3 separate regions of the Homo sapiens genome follow, and all the other regions are linked to region 1. The links come from fine-mapping of genetic effects on gene expression. A gene starts in region 1. Each other region holds a variant in brackets. All regions are shown on one strand. Distances are between the middles of the regions. Region 1 holds the start of OTUD3 (OTU deubiquitinase 3). Region 2 overlaps OTUD3 (OTU deubiquitinase 3). Region 3 has its middle 30 kb from the start of RNF186.

What was found.
Region 2: its variant is fine-mapped to the expression of OTUD3 in tibial nerve (GTEx, PIP above 0.99). The same link has a PIP of 0.9 or more in visceral fat and whole blood.
Region 3: its variant is fine-mapped to the expression of OTUD3 in whole blood (INTERVAL, PIP 0.96).

Annotation. Positions count from the first base shown.
Region 1 is chr1:19,878,824-19,886,823 of GRCh38, reverse strand. OTUD3 (OTU deubiquitinase 3) reads right to left here and starts at 4,429. Exons shown (of 8, transcript NM_015207.2): 1 at 4,090-4,429. The coding sequence starts at 4,310. All of the region lies in intron 1 of LOC105376823 (a long non-coding RNA gene), which reads left to right. RefSeq lists a silencer at 3,886-4,225 and an enhancer at 4,596-4,645.
Region 2 is chr1:19,902,242-19,910,518 of GRCh38, reverse strand. OTUD3 (OTU deubiquitinase 3) reads right to left here. Exons shown (of 8, transcript NM_015207.2): 5 at 6,121-6,252; 6 at 5,532-5,628; 7 at 3,903-4,087; 8 at 1-2,949. The coding sequence ends at 2,773. Among named protein-coding and RNA genes, the nearest start is that of PLA2G2E, 17 kb to the left of the region's middle. The variant C/T (reference allele first, on the strand shown) is at 3,926.
Region 3 is chr1:19,840,944-19,849,220 of GRCh38, reverse strand. No RefSeq gene overlaps it. Among named protein-coding and RNA genes, the nearest start is that of RNF186, 30 kb to the right of the region's middle. The variant A/G (reference allele first, on the strand shown) is at 3,830.

The DNA of each region.
Region 1 (8,000 bases):
AAATGAAAATGCTGGGGCCCACCCAGGCCTACTCAATCAGGCATTCTGGGGTTGGGGCCCAGCAACGTAGCCCTTCCAGGTGTTTTCACTAGCAGTCCAGGTGGTTATGTTGCATACTGAAGTTTGAGAAACACTAGTTGAGCATCTAGACTCTAAATCAGTCACTCTCAATTATGGATGCATATAAGAATCATCTGTAAATTTTTTTTTAAAAAACATCAATAACCAGGCCCCACTCTAAGATTCTGATGTAGTTGATCTAGGGGAGAGCCCAGGCCCTGAATTGTTTCAAAAGTTCCTCCCCAGATATTCTAGTATGGCACCCAACTGAAAACCACTGAGTGAGGCACAAAAGATGGCACTGCTGTTCAGGTGACACAGGCAATAATTAGACAAGATGATGTGTGAATGCCCTTCTACTACTGTGATCCTGCAATATTAAAAACAAAACTAAAAAATAAACTACTTGTTAGTAATAAGATAAACAGCTAAAATTAGTGATTCTTCAATGTTTCAATTTTAGAACACTGCTAATGAGTAATGTAACTCAGAACTACATTTAGTAAGACCCAACTAGATAAGTTCAGAGGGATGTTAATATTGTACTGCCTAATAAATAGAGTTATACATTCTTTTCACACTATAGCCAATCATGTTTTTAAGGAAAACATCAAGGTTAAACTATTTCTTTCTTGCTTTGAAAAATGAATCCAATTTATGTGGGTCCACCTTCCAGACAACACGTGAAATATGAAGCTGGTCCAGGAAGCATTACAAAACCCTCTAAGTAGCTCCCTGATTAATCTACACTAAGCTGACTCAACCCATGTAAAGGCTGTATTACAGGATATTGGTTAATTCATCCCTAAACCCCCTCAGGTTCCAGAATGCTACAGGTACCATATTGCCAACAATGAACATGCTCATAGATACTGTATCAGGCTACTCCAGATTGTAATCAAATCTGAATGAAAACAGGGAACGCTAGAGATGTCAACTATTTTTTAATAGTCTTTAACTTCATTATATTTCACCTGAGTCCTTAATAAACATTAATAAAAGAATCCGTTGTCCAGGCGCGGTGGCTCACACCTGTAATTCCACCACTTTGGGAGGCCAAGGCGGATGGATCATGAGGTCAGGAGTTCGAGACCAGCCTGGCCAACATGGTGAAACCCCATCTCTACTAAAAATACAAACAAATTAGCTGGCTGTGGTAGCAGGTGCCTGTAATCCCAGCTACTCAGGAGGCTGAGGCAAGAGAATTGTTTGAACCCAGGAGGCAGAGATTGCAGTGAGCCAAGATTGTGCCACTGCACTCCAGCCTGGGTGGCAGAGTAAGACTCCGTCTGAGGGGGGTAGAAGAATCTGTTGACACCTGCCAACCCATCACATACACAGGAAACACCATCCCCTGCAGTGATAAAGTCTGTCATCACCACATTCGAAAGGACTAGGATACTGACGAGGGCTGAACCACAGTCCAGCTAATGGAACTCATGTGAAGAACTTGTGAACAGAAGGTGGTTAGCTCCATGAAGCCCACACAAGAGGAAATACGATCATTTTATCTAACACTGTCCGAATAACAGGAACCTTGGAAGAGAGACATGAGCACTCCAGTCAAGCTGGTTTCTGGAGCCTAGCTTCACTGCCCGTTACTTCTACCCTTGTGCCCTACACTACCCGTCACCCTAAACAACCTGTAGATCTCCCAAAAACATCGTGTCCTTGTGCCTCTATATATACTCCTTCTCAGATGGGACCGTTCTCTTGGTGTACTCCTATTGGTCCTTCATGACCCAATCAGAGCATGACACCCTCTGAGAGGCATCTAGCAGTGTATCCAATGAGTATTTACCGAATGAACGAGAAGGACTTCCTGGCCAATTCATAGAGTAGTAGCCTTTTCCTTCTCAATAGTACCATTATAATCAGTCACTGTTACTAAAAATATATCAAACTATATTTTAATTATTTGTATCATCTGTTCTCAAAGTGTGACTCAAGGGACCGGAGATGTGGGAAGGTCTCTGATATGCTTTCAGGGTATCCGTGAGTTCAAAACTAAGATGTAATGTACCTTTTTCATTCTCATTCTCTCACAAGTGCAGTGGAGTTTTCCAGAGGCTACCTGATGCATGAAGTCATCACTCTGATAGCTAATGGAATGTGTGTGTATTCTTGTGTTTTAACTTTGTTTTACTTTCTAATACAGTAAATACTCATAGCTATAACCCATATAAAGTTCTTTCGGTTTCTCAGTAATTTTTAAGAATGCCAAGAGATCTTAAGACCAAAAAAGCTGAGACCCACTGTTACGTGTTTCTACCTTAGGCTATGAAGTCCTTAAGTATCTTAGTCATCAACATATTCCCAGCACCCTACTTAAGGTGTGCTGAATTAACTTGAAAAGTATGCTGTGTGTGTATGGGGGTGTGGGGATAGGGAGCAGAAGTAGTACCCCCAAAGTTTCCCATAACCTTATGAAAGCCCCCTCAAGAGTTTACAACTCCCTGTGCTAATTCCTCCTCATAAGTAACCTTCTATTGAGTACTTCAGTTTCCTGGGCACCCTGACATTGAGAATACCATACCCAGTATAGCAGACACAAGCAATCCAATCATTTGCAAGGAAAAGCCCCAATGTCCCACGCCAATTCCACTGTATTCAATTGGTATTTCTGTTTCTATAAGGGTGTCTTGGGCTTATGCTTAGGCTAGCTGACCTCCCTCTATTATTTTTATATTTCATTCAGCAAAAACGTACTGACTGCCTTCCATGTACCAAGCACTTTGCCAGATGATGGTGAATAAATGTAATCAAGTTCCAACTGCATCTTAAGCAAAAACAGCAACGCAGCAAAGTGTGGTGAACTCTTTGTGAGCAAAAAGAAATCCAATCTGCCTGAAGCAATGAGCATAAACAGGAACGGTGGGAAAGGGAAATTAGGACCAGTTCACAGTCTTAATCAATAAGCTGCAATGTAATGTGAAAATTTTTAAAACACCTTATTCTGCAGTTAATATCTAAGGCAATTCCTGGCCGGGGGTGGTAGCTCATGCCTGTAATCTAGGCACTTTGGGAGGCCGAGGCAGGAGGATCGCTTGAAGCCAGGAGTTCGAGACCAGCCTGGGCAACACAGCAAAATCACCGTCTCTACAAAATAACAATAATAATGAACTAAGGCAATTCCTTATGGTCTTTAATTTCATTTTAGTCTTCCCTCTGCAGGATCTGAGCACTCAAATACGGGGAGGAAAAAAACAAAAGCCAGGCTGTTATTAACACTCTCTCTTCCAAAGTGACACAGCTGACAACCAGACCCCTTTTTACCTGCCCCTGCAATGGGGATCCTAACTGTTCTCCCCTCTTCCTGACCCTTTTCCTTCTTCCATCCATGTTCCTGGAGCCATATCCCCTTTCTTGAAGCTAATTTTCTTCCTCCTCCCCACTCTCCCCCTCCGCGTTCCCTAAAGAAAGCTGGACCTGGATCCAGTCTAAGTCCCAAGAAAGCTTGGGGAAGCACCTTTGCTTACAGAGAAACTGAGGCCCATGGAAGGAAGAATTAGAGAAGCTGCCTTCAGCTCAGTAAACAGGCGACCTAATTTCACAAATGTAAATGGGGGCACCACCCAAAAACCAAGGACTCAAAGGAGGCAAAGCGTTCTACCAAGTGGGGCTTACTCAAACTCCTTCAACTGGTCTTATCGTCATGATAACTGTTTTTCCAATGCCTGGCTCCATCTCATTCCTTCAGAACTCAGCTTAAATGTCACCTTTGAGAGAGCCCTTCCTGGCCACAATCCAGTGGCCCTGCTCCCATATACGGTCTCAGCACCCACTTTCTATTTCGCTCGCGGCGTCTGCCATGATTAGGACCCTTTGGGATCCCCGCGAGCGTCTCGGGGCGAGGGGCTTGTCCGCCTCACTCGCAGCTGGACGCCCTGCACTCGGAGCGTGGCTGGCTCGCGGGAGGCGCCCGGGCCGCCCGAATGAATGGATGGATGGACGCGAGCGGGCAACGGTCGCCAGGCCGAGCCCGGCGCGTCCCCCGGCGCCGCCTCCCTCGCTCCCGGCCCGCCTCACCCGTCCCCCGGCACCTCCCGCAGCTTCAGCCCCAGGGCCTGCAGCTGGTTGGCGAAGCTGACGAACTCCTCCTCGCAGCCGCCGCCGCCGCCAGACTCCGGCCGATTCCGCCGCTCCTTGGCCAGGGCCCGGCGCGCCGCCCGCTCGTCCCGCTTGCGCTCGGCCTCGGCTTTCCGGCTGCCGCTGCCCGGCCGGCTCTTCGCCGCCTGCTTTCGGGACATGGCCTTAGCCTGCAGTCCCCAGCGGCAGGAGGGAAAGGCGCAGGACCCCCCAGCGTCCGCCTCAAGCGTTGGGAAGGTAAAACAGCGCGGGCAACGGAGCCCGGCGACGACTACGCAGCAACCGCGCCTGCGCCGGCGCCCAGCACCCCGGTCACATGATGGAATCCCCGCCTCTTTTGCGGGGCTCGGCGAGCAGACGCCATAGAGAGCTGGAGGGGCACCCATCTTGGTTTGTTCTATTCCGCCCTCTAGTGGTGGATGGTACTCAACGTGAGTGGCAGGAGCGACCGGAGAGGGACCAGAGAGAACAAAGCAGGAACAAGTCAAGCAGAGAAATTAAAGATGATAGAAGAGTGGAACACAGAGCAGCGGCAAAAGTTAGGACCGGAGATGAATAAAAACGATTTAAACTCTTGCTGCGAGCCTACTACAGTTGGATAGGCACTTTCACACGGCTCATTCTTGTTTAATTATCCCCAAATTACAGGAAACTGAATCTGAGTGGTTAAATAATTTCAAGATCACACAGCTAAAAGGCAGAGCTTTGCCCTGGCTCCAAAGCCCGCATACTTGTTTATTTAATCCTGCCCTTCATCTCTCCGCCTTCCTTCGTAACTCAAGGGAGAGGTCGCCCTTCTGTCCAAGACCACTGGAAATCCTAATTCCATCCTAGAGCGACCCACCTAGGTTTGCCTGGACTAGAGGTTTTCTTGGGATGCAGGACTTTCCGTTTTAAAACTGAGACAGACCAGGCTGGGCGTGATGGCTCACACCTGTAATCCCAGCACTTTGGGAGGCCGAGGCGGGCTGACCACAAAGTCAGGAGATGGAGACCATCCTGGCTAACACTGTGAAACCCCGTCTCTACTAAAAATACAAAAATTAGCCGGGCGTGGTGGCGGGCGCCTGTAGTCCCAGCTACTCGGGAGGCTGAGGCAGGAGAATGGCATGAACCCGGGAAGCGGAGCTTGCAGTGAGCCGAGATTGCACCACTGCACTCCAGCCTGGGGGACAGAGCGAGACTCCATCTCAAAAAACAAACAAACAAAAAAACAAAAACAAAAACTGAGGCCAGGTGCAGTGGCCCACGCCTGTAATCCCAACACTTTGGGAAGCCGAGGCCAGGGGATCGCCTGAGGTCAGGAGTTCGAGACCAGCCTGGCCAGCTGGCCAAGATGGTGAAACCCCATCTATATTGCGTGAGGCTGAGGTTTGGAGTACAAATGAATCTGTCACCCAGGTAGTGAGCAAAGTACACAATACACAATAGGTAGTTTTTCAACCCTTTCCCCCAACTGCCTCCCGACTCTTGTATTCCCCAGAGTCTATTGTTCCCATCTTTGTGTCCATGTGTATCCAATGTTTAGCTCCCACTTATAAGAACGTGCAGTATTTGGTTTTCTGTTTCTGCCTTAGTTCACTTAGGATAATGGTTTCCAGCTGTATCCATGTTGCTGTTCTCCCCTCTTCCTGGACATGATTTTGTTCTTTTTTATGGCTGCATAGTATTCCATGGTGTATATATACCACATTTTCTTTATCTAATCCACTGTTGATGCGTACCTGGGTTGATTCTATGTCTTTGCTATTGTGAATAGTGCTGCAGTGAACATACGGGTGCATCTGTCTTTTTGATAGAACGATATATATTCCTTTGAGTATAGACCCAGTAATGAGATTGCTGGGTCGAGTGGTAGTTCAATTTTTAGTTCTTTGAGAAATCTCCAAACTGCTCTCCACAGTGGCTGAACTAATTTACATTCCCACCAACAGTGTAAAAATGTTCCCCTTTTCCCCACAGCCTCAGCAACATCTGCTATTTTTTCTTTTTAACAAAAGCCATTCTAACTGGCATGAGATGGTATTTCATCGTGATTTTGATTTGCATTTTTCTGATGACAATAAGAATGCAAAAGAGAGTTGTAAAGATTAAATAAAAATGTAAAGCCCCAGGCATGAAGTAAGTACCTATTTAATGAAGTTGTTTGAATCAGTTCTCTGGAAATCTCATGAGCTCAGGGGCAAAGACTTTCAAACTTTAGAAACCAGGGAAGAAAGGTTTCTCACCAGCAAATAAGTAAATACAGACTGCTAACATATTGATAGAAAAGCGAACACTTGCCCGTCTTGTAAAAATCTTTTTGGCTGGGCGTGTGGCTCACGCTTGTAATCCCAACACTTTGGGAGGTGGAGGCGGGCGGATCACCTGAGGTGAGGAGTTCGAGGCCAGCCTGTAATCCCAGCTACTGGGGAGGCTGAGGCAGGAGAATCGCTTGAACCCGGGAGGCAAAGGTTGCAGTGAGCCGAGATTGCGCCATTGCACTCCAGTCTGGGCAACAAGAGTGAAACTCCTTCTCAAAACAAAAACAAAAACACAAACAAAAAATCTTTTCTGGCATAAGCCCTTAGCCTTTAGCCCACACACAGATTTTGAATGGGCGAATTTCTCTTCTCAGCGGAGACCTGTGTTAGACAGTGTCTCTAAGTGCAAATCAATGCTGCCTATAAATTATATTTAAAGGCCAAAGGGAAGGAGTATAGTACTTGTAAATAAAATGAATGCTCTGCCCACTTCGCTAGAGTTAATTAAAAGAATCATTGACCCGCACAGTGGCTCATGCCTGTAATCCCAGGACTTTGGGAGGCCAAAGTGGGGGTATTGCTTGAGCCCAGGAGTTCAAGATCTGCCTGGGCAACAAAGTGAGATTCCCCATCTCTGCAAAAAAATTTTAATTAGCTGGGCATGGTGATGCATGCCTGTAGTCCCAGCTATTCGGGAGGGGCTGAAGTTGGAGGATCACTTGAACCTGGGAGTTTGAGGCTGCAGTGAGGTATGACTGTGCCACTGCACTCCAGCCTAGGTGACAGAGCAAGACCCTGTCTCAAAAATAATAATAATAGTAATCAAACCTCATTGGATGGCAGTATAAATTAGTAAAAAGTGTGACTAACAGAATTTTAGTGAAGAAATGCAGCTTTAGGACTTTCAAGAACATACCATCAAGGGTATGGGAAAATGAGAACTCTCGCACACTGCTGTTGGGAGGTAAATTTATCTAGCCACTTTGGAGGGCAATTTGGACTGTATCTGGTAACTTTGGGGTTTTTTTTGTTTTTTTGTTTGTTTGTTTGTTTTGAGATGGAGTCTTGTTCTGTTGCCCAGGCTGGAGTGCCGTGGTATGATCTCGGCTTACTGCAACCTCTGCCTCCCGGGCTGAAGAGATTGTCAGAGATTCTCCTGCTTCAGCCTCCAGAGCAGCTGGGAATACAGGCACACACCACCATGCCCAGCTAATTTTTTTTTTTTTTTTTTTGTATTTTTAGTAGAGGCGAGGTTTCACCATGTTGGCCAGTCTGGTCTCGAACTCCTGATCTCAGGTGATCCGCGTGCCTCAGCCTCTTACTGTGCTGGGATTAGAGGCATGAACCACTGCACCTGGCCTGTATCTGGTAACATTTTAAATGTCTAGTGTCTACATCTCGTGATCTATCCTAAAAATAGAAATATTACATCTCCTCCTAAACTCCTCGTGTGTATCCGTATTCTAAATTTTCCTCGTGCAAGACGATGAACCCCAGGGTATATACTCCGGACAATGTAGCTCCTTCAAAAGTACACTCTCAGACGCAGATAGTCCTAAAGCAAATTACATGCACGTGCACTAGAAGGTATGTCCAAGTGTTGGCAGT
Region 2 (8,277 bases), 24 kb before region 1:
TAATATCTCCTAGTGGCAACTACATTATCTAGAAGTTATGGTTCTATGCTGCTTTAATACATCTACCTCTCTAGTTCAAAGCTGTTGCCACTAAAATGGTATTTATTTTGACCTCTAAAAAAAAATATTTTCAAAATCCGTAAAACCTTTATATACCGTTTATAAGAGCAGTAAGCAGCTATGCACCACTGCTCCATCCCCTTTCTCCTGACCACACTACAAGCTACCAAGACAATCTCATGTAACATAAATCTCTGCCAGCCAAGATGTAACACAGAGGTTAAGACACATTCAGTTCCTAATAAAGAGTTCACAGGAGCACCTGTACTAGAGTAACAGCTGCTGACAACAGTCATCCCAGGACTAGACATACTGGGCCTCCACTCGGGCTGCCAGTGAAGGAATTTTCAAGTGCCCACTGAGGCAACTAAGCATGTTGATTCCAACCTTCTCATGTACCCAGTGAGACTGAGGCAGTGAAGTCTAAATTGAAACCATTAGCTAGAAGGTATCACTGAAGTTGGATGCATGTACCCGATTCCTAATAATTAACACACTAAACAGACCAACTGTAACTGAAAAGCTGTGAAACCAGTAGTAAAATTACTAAAGCCGTTTGATTAGTTTTTTAAACCACCATTATTATACTCCAGAAATGCTGAAGCCTATTACCAGAATTAGGTAATTTAAAAAATAAATGTTCCCAATATTCTTTAATAACTTTTTAGCAGCTTCTAAAACTTCTAAAACCCAATAGGGCCCAAGGCCACCTTCATTAACCAAGTAAATAAAGCAATTCTACTACTTCTGACAATAAGTCTCTCTTAAGCTGACTGCTAATCTGAATTTCTGGCATACAATCTTATCTTTCTGAGAGGATCTGGCCTCTGCACTCAAGCAGTACAAAACAGACAGGAAAACATCTTCATTCAGAAACACTCAGCCAGTCAGGAATCTGCCCAGAGTTGAAAACCAAGACAACCATAGATCCTAACGCACTCGATCCCACTTCCTTAGAGTAAGGCAACAGAGATCTTTCATTCGTTTGGAATGAGTAGAGTAACACAGCCTCAAGCTCAGGACTCTGCGACGTGCACAGAAAAAAAATGCTGTGTACTTTTTTTAATCTGCTAAATTTTACAATGTACTGTACCCAGGAAGAAACCTAAACCACAATGTCCTAGGAGCAATTCCAAGAGACTACTGATGCTCCAACTACAAAAAGCCACCAAAGTCAAAAACAAAACCAAAAGATACCAGTGAAACTGAAGAAAGCCAAAGGCCTGGTGATAAAGACAATCTGGCGACTCCAGGGCCTACCAAACATTTTAGTTTTCAATTTGCCTCCGAATTTTTATAATTCTGAAATGCGAGGGGTGGGGAAGATAACTAATAATTTACCTTTCAACTCAGCATCAATTATTTGCCCAAGTATTAGGTCCCAAAAGACAAAGATGATCCAAGATGGGCTGCCTCATACGTTATAGTTCTTAAGTTCACATCCACCTAACTCAGTTTTAGGAAAGACGTCTCTCCACTGCTCAAGTCTGTCTATTTCAGAACTGAAGAGTGATTCGAAGGCCTCAACCAAAGTATGTTCTCTTCTCTGCTGGTCCAACCTAAGTCAACCAACCCTGCTGGTCCAACAACTTCCAGCAGATGCTGGAGTTTTCCCAACTTTGAAATGCCAAACAGGGCTTAAATAAAAAGAAATAAATGTAGCATTTTATAAGATTTAATTTCCACAATACTAAGTTTAGCGACCTATAAGGTCAAGTTACCACGTATCTCTCTGAAGGCATCTAAGTCTACAACAGAAGGGAAGAAAATCGTTATTTAAAATGCGAACATGAAAAACCTTATTCTTCCAGGCTTCTCCTATAAAAACATAATTCTTTAGACTCCTCTTAGGCAAAACCCCAGGAGTTCGTCTCCTGTTACAACTATAGACCCTGCTCTACACACTATCAGAATTCCAGAACTGTATCACAAGCAGTAACATGCCATCTCCCCACTGTCAGGAAACAAATACCAAAAACCCAACACCACTATCAACTTCCCAACAAGGCCAGGCCTAATTAACAGTCAGCTGCATTTATCATATGGCTTGAGTGCAAATGAACTAACAGCACCTGCATCCCATCTGAAATAACATCAGAATCAGGAAGGAGAGAAATGCGGTTAATTTCCATCCTGACTGCAGGCCACAACCCTCACGTAACTTTGGGAAAACAATTCCTGAATTATTTTCTGAGTAACTTGGATTAGAAGTAAATCAAAGCATATTCCTGAGTTGGAGATCATTTATAAGCTACCCTATATATCTGTTTGAGAATGAAAGAGAAACTAAGGAAACTTGTCATTCTGAATTTCTAACAATTATTCTAAACTACTCATGAACAATTACAGCAAAACTCACCCCAAATGTTAAGGAAAGATCCTAGGGTCACTGAAGTCTGATTTTCAGGGCAAATAAAGCCACCACTTAAAAGGTTTTTCCTGACCTAACTATCTGCCCCTAAAACTCAGTATTTTAATTTTGTATTACAGAATATGAATGGCCTCACTGCATTTTCATAAAACACCAACATATCACTAATAAAACTTCGAACAAAAAAAGAGGCAGCTTGAACGAAACTAACTCAGTGTGTGAGCTCATGTGTGGGCTTCGTTGGTTGTGTTGCGTTTTATAAAAGGACGGCCTCACTGGAAAGTCTAGCACACAGCAATCCTTTTCCAGCCGCTTCTTACAACTCCCAAGAGGCCAAAGAGTCAGATGTTGAGAGCGGCGAAGGTCTTCACCAAGGTGACCTGCGTGTTCGCCTCTGCTTCGCTTCTGTTATTGTCCCTGTGGCTACCTCTGCTCTCCAGGGCTTTGTGGCGGTGCCTCTCCTCCTGCCGCTTCTTCTTCTCCATCCACTGCTGTTCTCGCCTCTGTTTGTTTGTGACCTGAGAGAGAAGGCCATGGTGGTGAGTAGGAAGCACGGGGGACTCAAGCTGCCACCTGCTAGAAGGGAGATGGTGGCAAAGGGCACAGATTGCTTTTCAGCAGGAACAGGGAAAACCAATCTAAGACGCCAAAGATGATTTACTGTCCACTGCTGCTCAAATTTGCATTTAAATTTATATTTCCTTGCTGAACTAGCAAACAAAATCAATTCCATTCTTCTCTTAAAGAAACCAGCCCTCATCCAGCAAGAGTTGGTAACAAACAAACGTGTCAGAGAACATTTTTCCCCACATAATTTAATGCCCCAGGTAATTCTGACAAAATCCTCAGAAGCTTATTGCATCTCTGCCTCTGCTGTGGCTTTTTACACTGTGGCATTTTGAGCTCAGAACTTCTTGGTGAAAATCTTTAAAATGATTCCAAATTCAGTAAAATGGAAGATGTCACATACTACTTGTGGGAGTGAAGGGCAGGGAGGGAGATGTACCTTTCTGGGAAGCACGTGACAATTTACCAAAAGCCTTTAAAAGATTCATGTATCCATGACCTTTAACCTGTTCATTCCTCTTCTGGGACTTTATTCAAGAAAATAATGCAAAAACCAAAGATTTATACACAAAGGTGTTCATTGCAGATCATGGCATTTATAAAAAACATGGATAAACATGGGAAGAGCCCACATGTACAGTAATGTTAGGTGGGAAAAGGAGGCTTTTCATTTGTACACTGAGGACAATTTCAGGGTGTATTTCCTTCCAACTGTCACGGCATACACCAAACAGGATAAGTGAGGTCATTCTGCTTCTTGATGTAGCTTTATGCATTCCCCAGATTTTCCACACTACTTTTATAAATCAGAAGGAAAATACAAATAAAATTAATCTCAAGCTACCACCACTGCCACAGAATTACACCTGCCCACCACCTGCCCATTCAACCCCATCTTACATACCTTTGCGAGCTGGTTTTTATTTG[C/T]TTTGTTTTCTTCACTAGGGCTGGCCTGTGCCTTATTGTTTTCGGTCCTGCCTTCATTTAAGCCCTGATTTCCAAAGATTCTGGCACCACTGCCACCCTCCTCCCACAAAGGGCCACACTGCTTCAGCACTCGACCACTGGGCTCAAGATTCTCTTCTGCATCTTCCAAAGAAAGACATTTCATTAAAACTGAGAACCTGAGAGTTACACAGGGTGATGACTGTATTAATGATTCCAAAATTACCTGGGTCCCTACTTCAGTCATAAGGGAAGTAAGTTTCCTTGAGACAAATTCGAATGTCAAGACAGTGGGAAACATAGGAAGAAAAAGTTGGTAAAAGTTGGAAGATAAATTCTAAAATAACCCACTGACCAGCCTTTTGATCAGCTTCCAACCAGCAGAGTGCTTTTTAGATAAATTATGTCTTAACATGAATTTTTATGGGAAAATCTTTCATTTGCACCCAAAACCCAGAAAAGAAACAGGCTCTAAAGCTGTGCTGTCCAATGTATTAGCCACCAGCTATATGTGGCCATTTACATTTAAATTAAAATTAAACAACATTTAAAACGTAGCTCTCCAGTCTCATTGCTCATGTGGCAGGTACACACTATACTGAACAGCACAGATCACTGGAGGGTGCTGTTTAAAGTCACAAAGACCAAGTTACTTACAGATTTCTAAAAGTACAGCCAATACATAGTGGATAATAAAATACCTCATCACATGGAGCACTATGATGCCAGAAACAGTATCTGACACGTAACATCTGGCAATCAGTATTTATTGATATCATTTTAAATAAATGACTTGAGAAATTAATAAGATGTTACATCCTTTTCTCTTTTTTTTGAGAGGGAGTCTCGCTCTGTTGCCCAGGCTGGAGTGCAATGGTGCGATCTTAGCTCACTGTAACCACCACCTCCCAGGTTCAAGCAATTCTCCTGCCTCAGCCTCCTGAGTAGCTGGGATTACAGGCACCCGCCACCACACCCAGCTAATTTTTGTATTTTTAGTAGAGACGGGGTTTCACCATGTTCGTCAGGCTGGTCTCAAACTCCTGACCTCGTGATCCACCTGCCTCAGCCTCCCAAAGTGCTGGGATTACAGGTGTGAGCCACCACACCCAGCCGTTACATCTCTTTTCTTTCCTCTGAGTCACAAAATTATACTTGGTTCAAATTAAAAAAAAAAAATCAAAATTATCACAAGCTAATACAAATCTAAATATTTCCACCAGAAAAACAAGGTATTTCTCTCTCCATTTTATTTTGGTTATCATTTTGGTCTTCTAAGGCCATCTTATTTCTAAACAGGCTAATTCTTCCCTGATGCGTCCCCCAGCACCCTGTACTCCCAACCCCATTATGTACTATCGCACCAGTTTATCTGTCTCCACTATCCACCCTCTACCCCTGAACTATACTCCCCCTGAAGCAGAGACAGGACCTAGTAAAAAATGTCTACGTACAGAACGTGCTCAATAAACAACTCCTAAATGAATGACAGAACAGTTACCACCTGTGACTTGGTTAAAAAATAAATATTTGGAAAATTACCAACACAACCATTTTGAAGATCTATAAATATTAGTCATGGACTTACTATTTCTCTTCCCTTGGTTCATCCGAAGCACGGCAATTATTGCAGATTCAATATTATAATTTTCAGCTTCCAGGTTCTGGACTATTAAATTAAAATCCTATCCAAGAAACAAACAAACAAAAAAACCACTTCAAAACTCTGGGTATATTTTTCTGCCTAGCTCTACTTCAATAATCATAAACATAAAGATGTAATAGTGAGAATTAACACAAGGTTTCAGGACCTTTTCCATTTAGAAAAATGTCGATTTCCAATAAGGTTGGTCCCTTGAAATAACCGTCTAATGTACACTTATAAATGAATTCCCTCTATAAAACTGCATTTGTACTACTGTAAACACTAGTCAGGAAAAATTAAATCCACATACTTCCTAAGACCTTTGAGCAGTACTGGGTGAAGTCTAGCAAACAACAGGGAAATTAATAAACAGCTCTCATTAAGCCACATACACTAATCAAACTACAAATCTCATGGGCCTATTTTGGCCCACAAGGTGCTGATATGCTAGAGAGGTGCTACGAAACTAAGAAGTAAGCTAGGCACAGCAATGCTTGCTTCTAAATCATTCCTGCAAGACAGAAATACTAACTGAACATCCAGTTGCATTACAAACTTTCTGGACAGCATCCTCTACTTCATCTCTCAGGTCGTCTTCAGAGTCCATTCCCTTTGTCTTGATCTTTTCTCTTTTATTTGATTCATCTTGATGAAGCATCTGAAACTAAAGGAAACAAGTAATAATCAGGGAACTATGTTGAGAATCAAACTATGTTCAGAATCTTTAACACAAGACACTCTAATCTGGAAAAATTCATATATATAGGGGAAAACCTTCTAGAAACAACCTTAAGAGAACAGCAATGACTAGGCTCCATTTTATCCACTCATTGTACTTTGAGTCACAACAGAGGAATTGAAAAGAAAGGCCCAAAAGACAGAATAACTGCTCAGTAAGAAAGGCATTCGCACTCCCATGTCTAAATGCCAACACTGGCAAATGACTGCTGCCTCTGACAGCACACAGTCACCTCAGCTGATTTTCAGAGCCGTGAGCTTAACAGAAAACGATCCTCTATACTCGCACCTGGTGAACTTTTGCACAAAAACGGTGCTGGTCTTGAAGAAACCTACATACAACTTCCCTCTGGTTCCCAAGCCTTATTTGATCATCAGCACGCTTAGAGGTACTGAAGCTCCCGTCCCAGCTGGACAGTCACGGATGAGCATGACTCATCTAACCTCAGGTACATACCACCACACCCAGGGAAACTTGTCAATCCAAATCCTAAAGCCACAAACAACAGTTCACTTGGGATCCATGAGACCTTTACAACCTGGGCCTTAAATCAGAAAAGCTAAAATCATCCCTCTGTAGATGCTCAACCACCTTCTTCTTCTGCTTCCCATTGATGCAGGGAGATAGGTAAATGGGCAAAGACAGTTCTATTTTTTGAATGTAAACATATAGTGGACTCCAGCAATGTACAGTATATTCCTCAGAATGTTAATACAAAACATTCTATTATAAAATTAAACCCTAAGAATTTGACAAAGTTACAGGAGTCTTTGAGCCGGTAGTTTCACAGTTTTGAAATTTAGCCAAAGGAAATAATATCAAATAGAGAAAAGATTTATGGGCCTGGTGCAGTGGCTCACACCTGTAATCCCAGCACTTTGGGAGGCTGATGGGGGTGGGTCACTTGACCTCAGGAGTTCAAAACCAGCCTGGGCAACAAAGTGACATCCCGTCTCTACAAAAAAAATACAAAAGAATTATTTGGACATGGTGGCATGCACCTGTAGTCCCAGCTATTCAGGAGGCTGAGCTGGGAGGATGGCTTGAGCCCAGGAGGTGGAGGTTGCAGTGAGCCGAGATCACACCACTGCATTCCAGCCTGGACAACAGAGCTAGACCTTGTCTCAAAAAAAAAAAAAAAAAAAAAAAAAGAGAAAAGATTCAGGTAAAAGTGCTAACAGTGTTACTTATAGTGGTGAATAACTGGAAACCACCCAAAGGCTTTATAGTATGGATATGGTTAAATAACCACTGTAAATCCACAGAATGATGTCTTCATTCCCACTAAAGGAAGAAACACAATAATCACTCCCCCCATTATTACTTAACAATATTTTGGAGGTAACAGCCAAAGTATTTAGCCAAAATAAATTTTAAGTATAAAATTAAAAAGAAAAAAGTAATCTGTCTTTGTAGATGATATAATTCTGTAACTGAAACAAGAGAATCAACAAAAAACTACTGCAAACCAAAAAAATTACAGCAAATCATATACCTGGGTAAGAATCTAGCATCTAGAATATATTAAAAAACTCTTACAACTCAAAAAGGCAGAACCCAATTAAAAAATAGGCAAAAGACTTGAATAGACATTTTTCCAAAGATATACAAATGGCCGAAAACCACATGAAAAGATGTTCAATGTCATTAGCTATTAAGAAAATGCAATTCAAAACTTTAAGATACTGGCCGGGCGTGGTGGCTCATGCCTGTAATCCCAGCACTTTGGGAGGCCGAGGTGGGTGGATCACGAGGTCAGGAGATCGAGACCATCCTGGCTAACACGATGAAACCCTGTCTCCACTAAAAACACAAAAATTTAGCTGGGCGTGGCGGTGGGTCCCTGTAGTCCCAGCTACTCGGGAGGCTGAGGCAGAAGAATGGCGTGAACCCGGGAGGCGGAGCTTGCCAGTGAGCCACGATCGTGCCGCTGCACTCCAGCCTGGGCGA
Region 3 (8,277 bases), 38 kb after region 1:
TTAAAAAGCTATAAATATACTTAAAAGCCCTCTGTTTTTCTCTTCTTGGAACTTGTTTTACTGAAAAAAAGTTTTTTCTTCTCAATCAACTAAATCGTTTTTCTCCATTTTTTTTCTTGCCACTTTTCTTTTTTTTTTTTGAGACAGAATTTCACTCTTTTTGCCCAGGCTAGAGTGCAATGGCACGATCTCGGCTCTTCGTGAGCTCTGCCTCCCGGGTTCAAGAGATTCTCCTGCTTCAACCTCCTGAGTAGCTTGGATTACAAGCATGTGCCACCACGCCTGGCTAATTTTGTATTTTTAGTAGAGATGGAGTTTCTCTATGTTGGTCAGGCTGGTCTCGAACTCCCGACCTCAAGTGATCCGCCTGCCTCGGCCTCCCAAAGTGCTGGGATTACAGGCATGAGCCACTGCACACGGCCTTCTTGCCACTCTTAATGCACACATGAAAGGCCTTAAAATAACTTCTGGTAGCTGGGACTCCTTGGGAAACACAGAGGAGGCACCACAGACCCCGTTTTGGAAAAAAAGCCTCTGTTTTCCTCATGAAACCCCAGGAATTAAAAGCAGATAGATCCCTCTCAAAATCAAAGGCTCTGTTACGTTTTGCATTGTGTTATCTGACAGTTTTGAGTTCTGAGGGAATCAAAATTTACTTTGCATTATAAAAGAGCTTTGGTATATAATAACCAGATAGGAAATATACTTTAAGGGATGGTTAATAGTAGTTACGGAGGGAGACTTGACTCTGCACACTTAAATCAGAGAAGCATGCTCTTAGCCACCTGGAAGATAAGGAAACATTCCCAACTCCAATGGGAGATAAAACTCCCACGAGGGATGGGCTGATTACAAAATGGGCTAATTGGCTTTGGGTTACCTTGCAGTGCAATGCAAAGAAGAAGGACTGCACTGTCTTCTCCCACAGTATTTCCCTCCTTCTGGGGATCCAGGATCCAGTGTAAAATGGCATCCTTAATTTTAAGACTCTGTCTTTGCCTTCAGCTGCTTATTTGGCCCTAGAAACCAAGCTTTCCCAGCCTTGTTCTTCCAAGGGCTCCACCCTGAAGCCAGTCATCCAATTAAGAAACTGGCAAATGAAAAATCTTACAAGTGCTGAATCTTCTGTCTGTCTGTGTATTTATATGTGTTGTATGTTTATATATAAAAAGCTCTAATTAATTGGGTTAAAAAAATAAGCACTTAAATCAAATATTTTGTCAAAAATAGAAACTTTAATGCCTTTTTGTTCACATGACTTTAGTAATCTTAAAAATAAAGACAGTTTTAAAAATTACTGGTAAAATAAAATGTCTTTAAAATATAAACATTTAGTCTAAATTAAGGTCAAACATCAGATTTGCTAAATGCTTTAAGGTCAAACTATTTCTTTAACTTTTATTTTATTTTATTTATTTAAGACAGGGTCTCACTCAGTCACCCAGGCTGGAGTGCAGTGGCACTCCAGGTAACGTCAGGAAGTTACCCTATGTAGTCTAAAAAGAGGAGGCATGAATAATCCACCCCTTGTTTAGTATATCATCAAAAAAAACCCATAAAAATGGGCAACCAGCCGCCCTCGGGGCTGCTCTGTCTATGGAGTAGCCATTCTTTTATTCCTTTACTTTATTAATAATCTTGCTTTCGTTTTCCACTGCGGACTCGCCCTGAATTCTTTCTTGCGCAAGATCCAAGAACCCTCTCTTGGGGTCTGGATCCGGACCCCTTTCTGGTAACCCTAGGGCTGCTGTTTTAATAACGTATCTAAGATAACAGTCAAAACTGAGTTCTTACTCCTGGAGTGACTTTAAGTCACGGCAGATAGCAACATGCAACTTGGGATTCAGAGAAATGAAGCATAGCTTTTCTTTTAACATTGACCTTATTTTCTACTTGGAATGAATGGAGAACCTGGAAACTGTGTAAGGCAACCCAGTGGAGTTAGGCACAGAGCAGAGACTTGGACTCAGAGAAGGAAGGTGTGAATCCCTGTACTCCCGCTTCCTAGCTGGGTGATGTTGGGCGCATTCCTTAACCTTCCTGAACCTTAGGTTCCACATCTAAAAACCAGGCACAGTTATACCTCTTACATAAGAGTAATGAGGGACTGTATGAGAATGCCTTGCACATACCTGACACATGGGAGATGCTCATTCTATGTTTTTTAATCTGAACAAGTTGAAACAAAGAAAGGAGTGTCCTCATATTGAGAAGATTATAATTGACCAGGATCATACCCAAGCATGGAGTATTCATGGAGAACAGACACAGGTTTCCCTCGTATGCACAGGGCAAGGCAGATCAAAGGAATGGGAGTTACAGAGTCAAAATTTTGGCAAAGGTTAAGGCCAGAAGTGCTGGTAGCCAACCTTGGGGTTGAATGGGATAACGTGGGGCCCAACCAAGGGCTCCCACGACACAGGAAAGAGGCACGAAAGACCCATTCATGGTTCAGCTTTCTCTCTGAGCTTCAGCAAATCAGACAATATGAACCGTATTCACTGTCAAAGCATGATGTGAGGATAAAATGAGGTTTTATATGTGAAAGGGCTTTATTGGACTCTTGTAAAGTATTAAATGGAATACACCCATACAAATAAAATTTGAAAGTAAAAGTTGCATAAAAAGTATTATGTGGATCAAAGTTGGTGTTTATATAATGGGTGTGTATTGAATTCCTTCACCATCAGGTATAAGAAAATGCTCATTCTCTGTAACAGCTAATGAGCCCCACCTCCCTGGTTGTTGGAAAATCCCAACTCAGTCACATTTTGGGAGGCACTACTTTCTCTAGGGTTGTGCAAAAGTCCTCCGAAGCCTGTGCTGAGACCCTCCCATCAGCAGCCCGCACTGGACCATTGTCCCAGCCTACCTTGAAGGTGGTATTTATGCTGCCTTGGAGCCAAACTGGAGCACAGGAAGTCTTTGCCCAGGCCAGAGATCTCTGTGCCTGGGATCAGAATTCCCTCAGCTCAGCCCACAATCATCCCCATCAGAGGTCCTGCTAGCTCCACTTTTCTCTCTGTTCTACGTTTCCTATTTTCTGGAGAGCTTTCCCAAATTTCTCCTCTCCCCCTTCTCTACTAAGGGATTTTATCAGCTTGTTCCATCTTTTCCAACCCTTGAAGCCCTGCTCCCTCTCATACAATCCCACTCTGGCCACCGAGGGGAACCCAGCTCCTAGGCATGGGTAGGGGAGGGCTCTGATTTGAGGGGTCCTAGAAACTCCTGCTTCTGGCTACCTGCTTAGGATGAAGGAGGGGAGACCGCCATTACGAGAATAAAAATACAATTTAATATCTCAGTAAAATATACAAGTAGTATGCTCATTGTAGAGCATTCAATAAGTAGTAGGTTCTTCACACTCCTTAAACAAAGTATAATTTAAGGTTAGTTTAGATTGAGTTCTACTTGATTTTTTTTTTTTGGAGATGGAGTCTTGCTCTTTCACCCAGGCTGGGGTGCAGTGACGCAATCTCAGCTCACAGCAACCACCTCCTCCTGGGTTCAAGTGATTCTCCTGCCTCAGCCTCTCATGTAGCTGGGACTATGGGCATGTGCTACCACGCCCGGCTGATTTTTGTATTTTTAGTAGAGACAGAGTTTCACCATGTTGGCCAGGCTGGTCTTGGTCTCCTGACCCCAGGCGATTCGCCTGTCTCGGCCTCCCAAACTGCTAGGATTACAGGCATGAGCCACAGCACCCAGCCTATTTTAGTTCTGTGTTCTTACTACAAATAAGAGATCCATTCGTTTTTCAAGCAAATCATGTTTTTTGGCAGAAAGCCGATACTACCAACCATGAGCTCTGACCTAGGTCTCAGCACTC[A/G]CTGGAGGAAGGTCTCTCCGTTGCCGACTCAGCTGTTTCAGGAAACAAATGTCTTGGAGATGAATGGGTAATGCTGACTTTATAGAGTAAAGACAGTCCCCACAGACGATTAACAAAGAAAGGAAAATATTCCAAGCTCCACCCCTCACTCCCTCACCCTCTCATCCTCTCACCCTTGAATTCTGTATCACATTTGGAAAACATTGTGTCTTTCTTTCCTCCCCTTTCAGTCATGGTTGTTTATTTTAGAGTAGGAGGTCACTGTCGAGGAAAAACTGAACAACTGTGTTTTTTGTTTTGTTTTGTTTTGTTTTGTTTTGTTTTGTTTTGTTTTGTTTTTTTCTGTAACACGGGGCCGAGGCTGGAGCCAAGACTACAGCCTAGGACTTTACTCTGGGATGGAAATAAATCTCCCGAGGCCTCTGTGCAGAAGAGGGTGGTTCGATTGCCAGTGAAATGCCTTTGTGTGTTTTTTATGAAAGAGGGAAGAAAAATCAAGGTCAACAATCTGAGAATAGAAGAAAGGGAGAAGGTGGTGGAGCTCATTCCCAGGGAAAATGCTAATGCTCCAGATCATCAAAGCTGGCCATGAACTTGCCATCAGTGTGGTTCAGAGCAAAACAAAAATGCGTAGAAAAAGGCCTGGAGGAGAACACTGGACTGATAAGGAAGACTGCTCATGTAGAGGGGACTGAGACTGGGCCGTTGGAGAAGTGGGTACATGTGATAAAGGATAAGTTAGGCTTCTCTTCAGTGCATTTATTTTATTTATTTATTTTTTTTTTTTAAGACAGACAGGGTCTCACCATGTTGCCCAGGCTGGTCTCAAACTCTTGAGCTCAAACCTCTCAAAGTGCTGAGATTATAGTCATGAGCCACTGCACCTGGCCTATTGTGTTAAATTTACTTATTTATTTATTGTTGAGACAGAGTCTTGCTCTGTCACCCAGGCTGGAGTGCAGTAATCTCAGCTCACTGCAACCTTCGCCTCCCGGGTTCAAGCAATTCTCTGCCTCAGCCTCCCGAGTAGCTGGGATTACCGGTGCCGGCCACCATGCCTGGCTAATTTTTAGTAGAGACAGGGTTTCATCATCTTGGCCAGGCTGGTCTTGAATTCCTGACCTCATGATCTACCCGCCTCAGCCTCCCAGAGTGCTGGGATTACAGGCGTGAGCCACTGCACCTGGCCTACTGAGTTACATTTTATGATTGAATATATATTCATGCAGTACTTGTGTGATTAAAACTAATGTTTAAAAGTTTATCTTAAAAAAGCAAGTACATGAGGTTTAGAGTCATAAATTCTGGGTATGCGATTTACCTTTTCCACTTGGAGATGGTCAGCCATCATTTATTGAGCAACTATTACATGCCAAGGAATATGCCAGGAAATTTATCCAAGTCTCCATTTACTTGTCTCTACAAGGGGTGTGATAATTTTGACTTCACAGGATTATCAAGAATAGGGCTGGGCGCAGTAGCTCACCCCTGTAATCGCAGCACTTTGGGACTCCGAGGTGGGCGTATCACTTGAGGTCAGGAGTTGGAGACCAGGCTGGCCAACACGGTGAAACCCTGTCTCTACTAAAAATACAAAAAATTAGCCAGGCATGGTGGCACGTGCCTGTAATCCCAGCTACTCAAGAGGCTGAAGCAGAAGAATGGCTTGAACCTGTGAGGCAGAGGTTGGCGTGAGCCAAGGTTGTGCCACTGTGCTCCAGCCTGGGCGATAAAGCAAGACTCCATCTCAAAAAAAAAAAAAGAATATTAACTGAAAGCATAGAGATAGGTTAAAACACAAATGCCTGTTATGCATTTATTGTAAGCCTTGTTCAAAAGAAGGTTTAAAGTGGTACTTATTAACTTCCTTCTATTTTTTTAGTTTAATATATTTTTAACAGAGACAGGGTCTCACTATGTTGCCCAAGCTGGTCTTGATCTCCTGGCCTCAATCAGTCCTCCTGCCTTGGCCTCCCAAAGTGCTAGGATTACAGGCATGAACCACCATGCTTGGCCAAGTTAATAATTTTTTGAAACAATCACAAATTTATTAAAAATCTGGAAAGATGGTACAAAGAACAGTGTGCTGGTGAATGTTTAACAATTGGCTGTCCAGAGGGAAAAAAAGACTGGAGTTGTAACATTTGCCAATTTCCATGGTGTAAATACTCCCACTACAGGCAATTTCATGCTGCCAACATGAGGTTACTGCACGCAGAGTTGGAAAGACGTTGAGCATAACCGACTTCAGTGCACTACTAACACACATAACTTTCTTCCCTGAACCATTTGAGAATAAGTTACCAGCCTGATACATCTCCCAAATACTAGAGTATGTAGTTCCTACAAACACAGATATTCCACAATTCCTTACAACCACAAGGAACCCTGAAAAATCAGGAAATTAACATGAAAAACATCTAATCCAGAGGCCTCATGCAAGTTTCACCAACTGTCCCAACAATGTCCTTGATAGTAAAAAAAAATCCAGTTCAGCATCTCACGTTGTGTTTCGCGGTAAAGTCTCTCTAGACTCCCCTTAAACCTGGAGCAGTTCCTCAGTTTGTCCTTGACTTGCATGGACATGACATTTTTGAAGATGGCATGTCAGTTAATTTATAGAAAGTACCTCAATTTGGGTTTGACCGATGTTTCCTTATGATTTTATTGAGGTTTTGCATCATTGGCAGGAATGCCACAGAAGCAAGGTTGAGTTCTTCTCCTTGCATCCTCTTAGAAGAAGTAATTTTTTTTTTTTTTTGAGGTGGAGTCTAGCTCTGTCGCCCAAGCTGGCGTGCAGTGGTGCGATCTCGGCTCACTGCAACCTCTGCCGCCTGGGTTCAAGCGATTCTCCTGCCTCAGCCTCCCGAGTAGCTGGGATTACAGGTGCCCACCACCACACCCAGCTAATTTTTGTATTTTTAGTAGAGACGGGGTTTCACTGTGTTGGCCAGGGTGGTCTTGATCTGCCTGCCTCGCCCTCCCAAAGTGCTGGGATTACAAGCGTGAGCCACTGTGCCTGGCCTAGGTAGAGTAGTGTTTAGATCCATCCCATTATTTATGATGTTCATTATTATTAAGTTTCTATCTGCCTGACTTTTCCACTATGATGTTATTTTTTTTCTTTTGTAATTAGTAAGTATTGTGCAGAGAAGTACTTTGAAACTGCGTAAATACCCTATTCCTCCTGACATTTAAAAATTTTTTTTTAAGACGGAGCTTCACTCTTGTTGCCCAGAATGGAGTGCAGTGGCACAGTCTTGGCTCACTGCAACCTCTGTCTCCCAGGTTCAAGTGATTCTCCTGCCTCGGCCTCCTGAGTAGCTGGGATTACAGGCATGCACCACCATGCCCGGCTAATTTTGTATTTTAGTAGAGACAGGGTTTCGCCATGTTGGTCAGGCTGGTCTCAAACTCCTGACCTCAGGTGATCCACCGCCTCAGCCTCCCAAAGTGCTGGGATTACAGGCATGAGCCACCACGCCTGGCCCCTCCTGACATTTTCAATGTATTATTTTATTGACTTACATGTGTATAGACTCATGGTTTTCTACTTTATTCCATTAGTTTGAATCCATTATTATCATTACTTATTTTGATACCAAATTGTCTCTGATTTGAACAGTGGGACGGAATTCTTTGAGTACTTCCTTACTTTCTAGCATGTTTCAGATTCATCATGCACTGTCTCCACTCTAGCCTTGGAATCAGTCATTTTTCTGAGTTGTCCTGGTTCCTTGGACTCCTTATTAGAATCCTTGGTAGAGAATGGAATTTATTTATTTATTTATTTATTTATTTGTTTATTGAGACGGAGTCTCACTCTGTCACCTAGGCTCAAATGCAGTGGTGCGATCTCGGCTCACTGCAGCCTCCATCTCCTGGGTTCAAGCGATTCTTCTGGCTCAGCCTTGCAAGTAGCTGGGACCACAGGCGAGCGCCACCATGCCCGGCTAATTTTTTGTATTTGTAGTAGAAATGAGGTTTTGCCATGTTGGCCAGGCTGGTCTCAAACTCCTGGCCTCAAGTGATCCGCCTGCCTTGGCCTGCCAAATTGCTGGGATTATAGGCATGAGCCACCGCGCCCAACCAAGAATGGAACTTAGAAACCAAGTTCTATGCTCATTTCTGATGTCACTGTTCCCAGGCCCCCGTGGACAGTGATAAGGAATGTACACACACATTTGCATGCACACATTTAAATCTATCTTTATTTCCATATGTATCCATCTATGTCTATTGAAAGCCACAAGTTCACGCACAAATCTCCAATTTCAATTCAGAACCAGTTTCTTAGCGATTTCTCCCTTTCCATACTTGTCTCTTCCTTCTCCAGTAGTGAAGAATTAGGCCCATTTTAAAATTAAGACATAATTCACATACCATAAAAGTCGCCTGTTTAAAGTATACCGTATGGTGTTTTTTAGTATATTTGCAAGATTGTACAA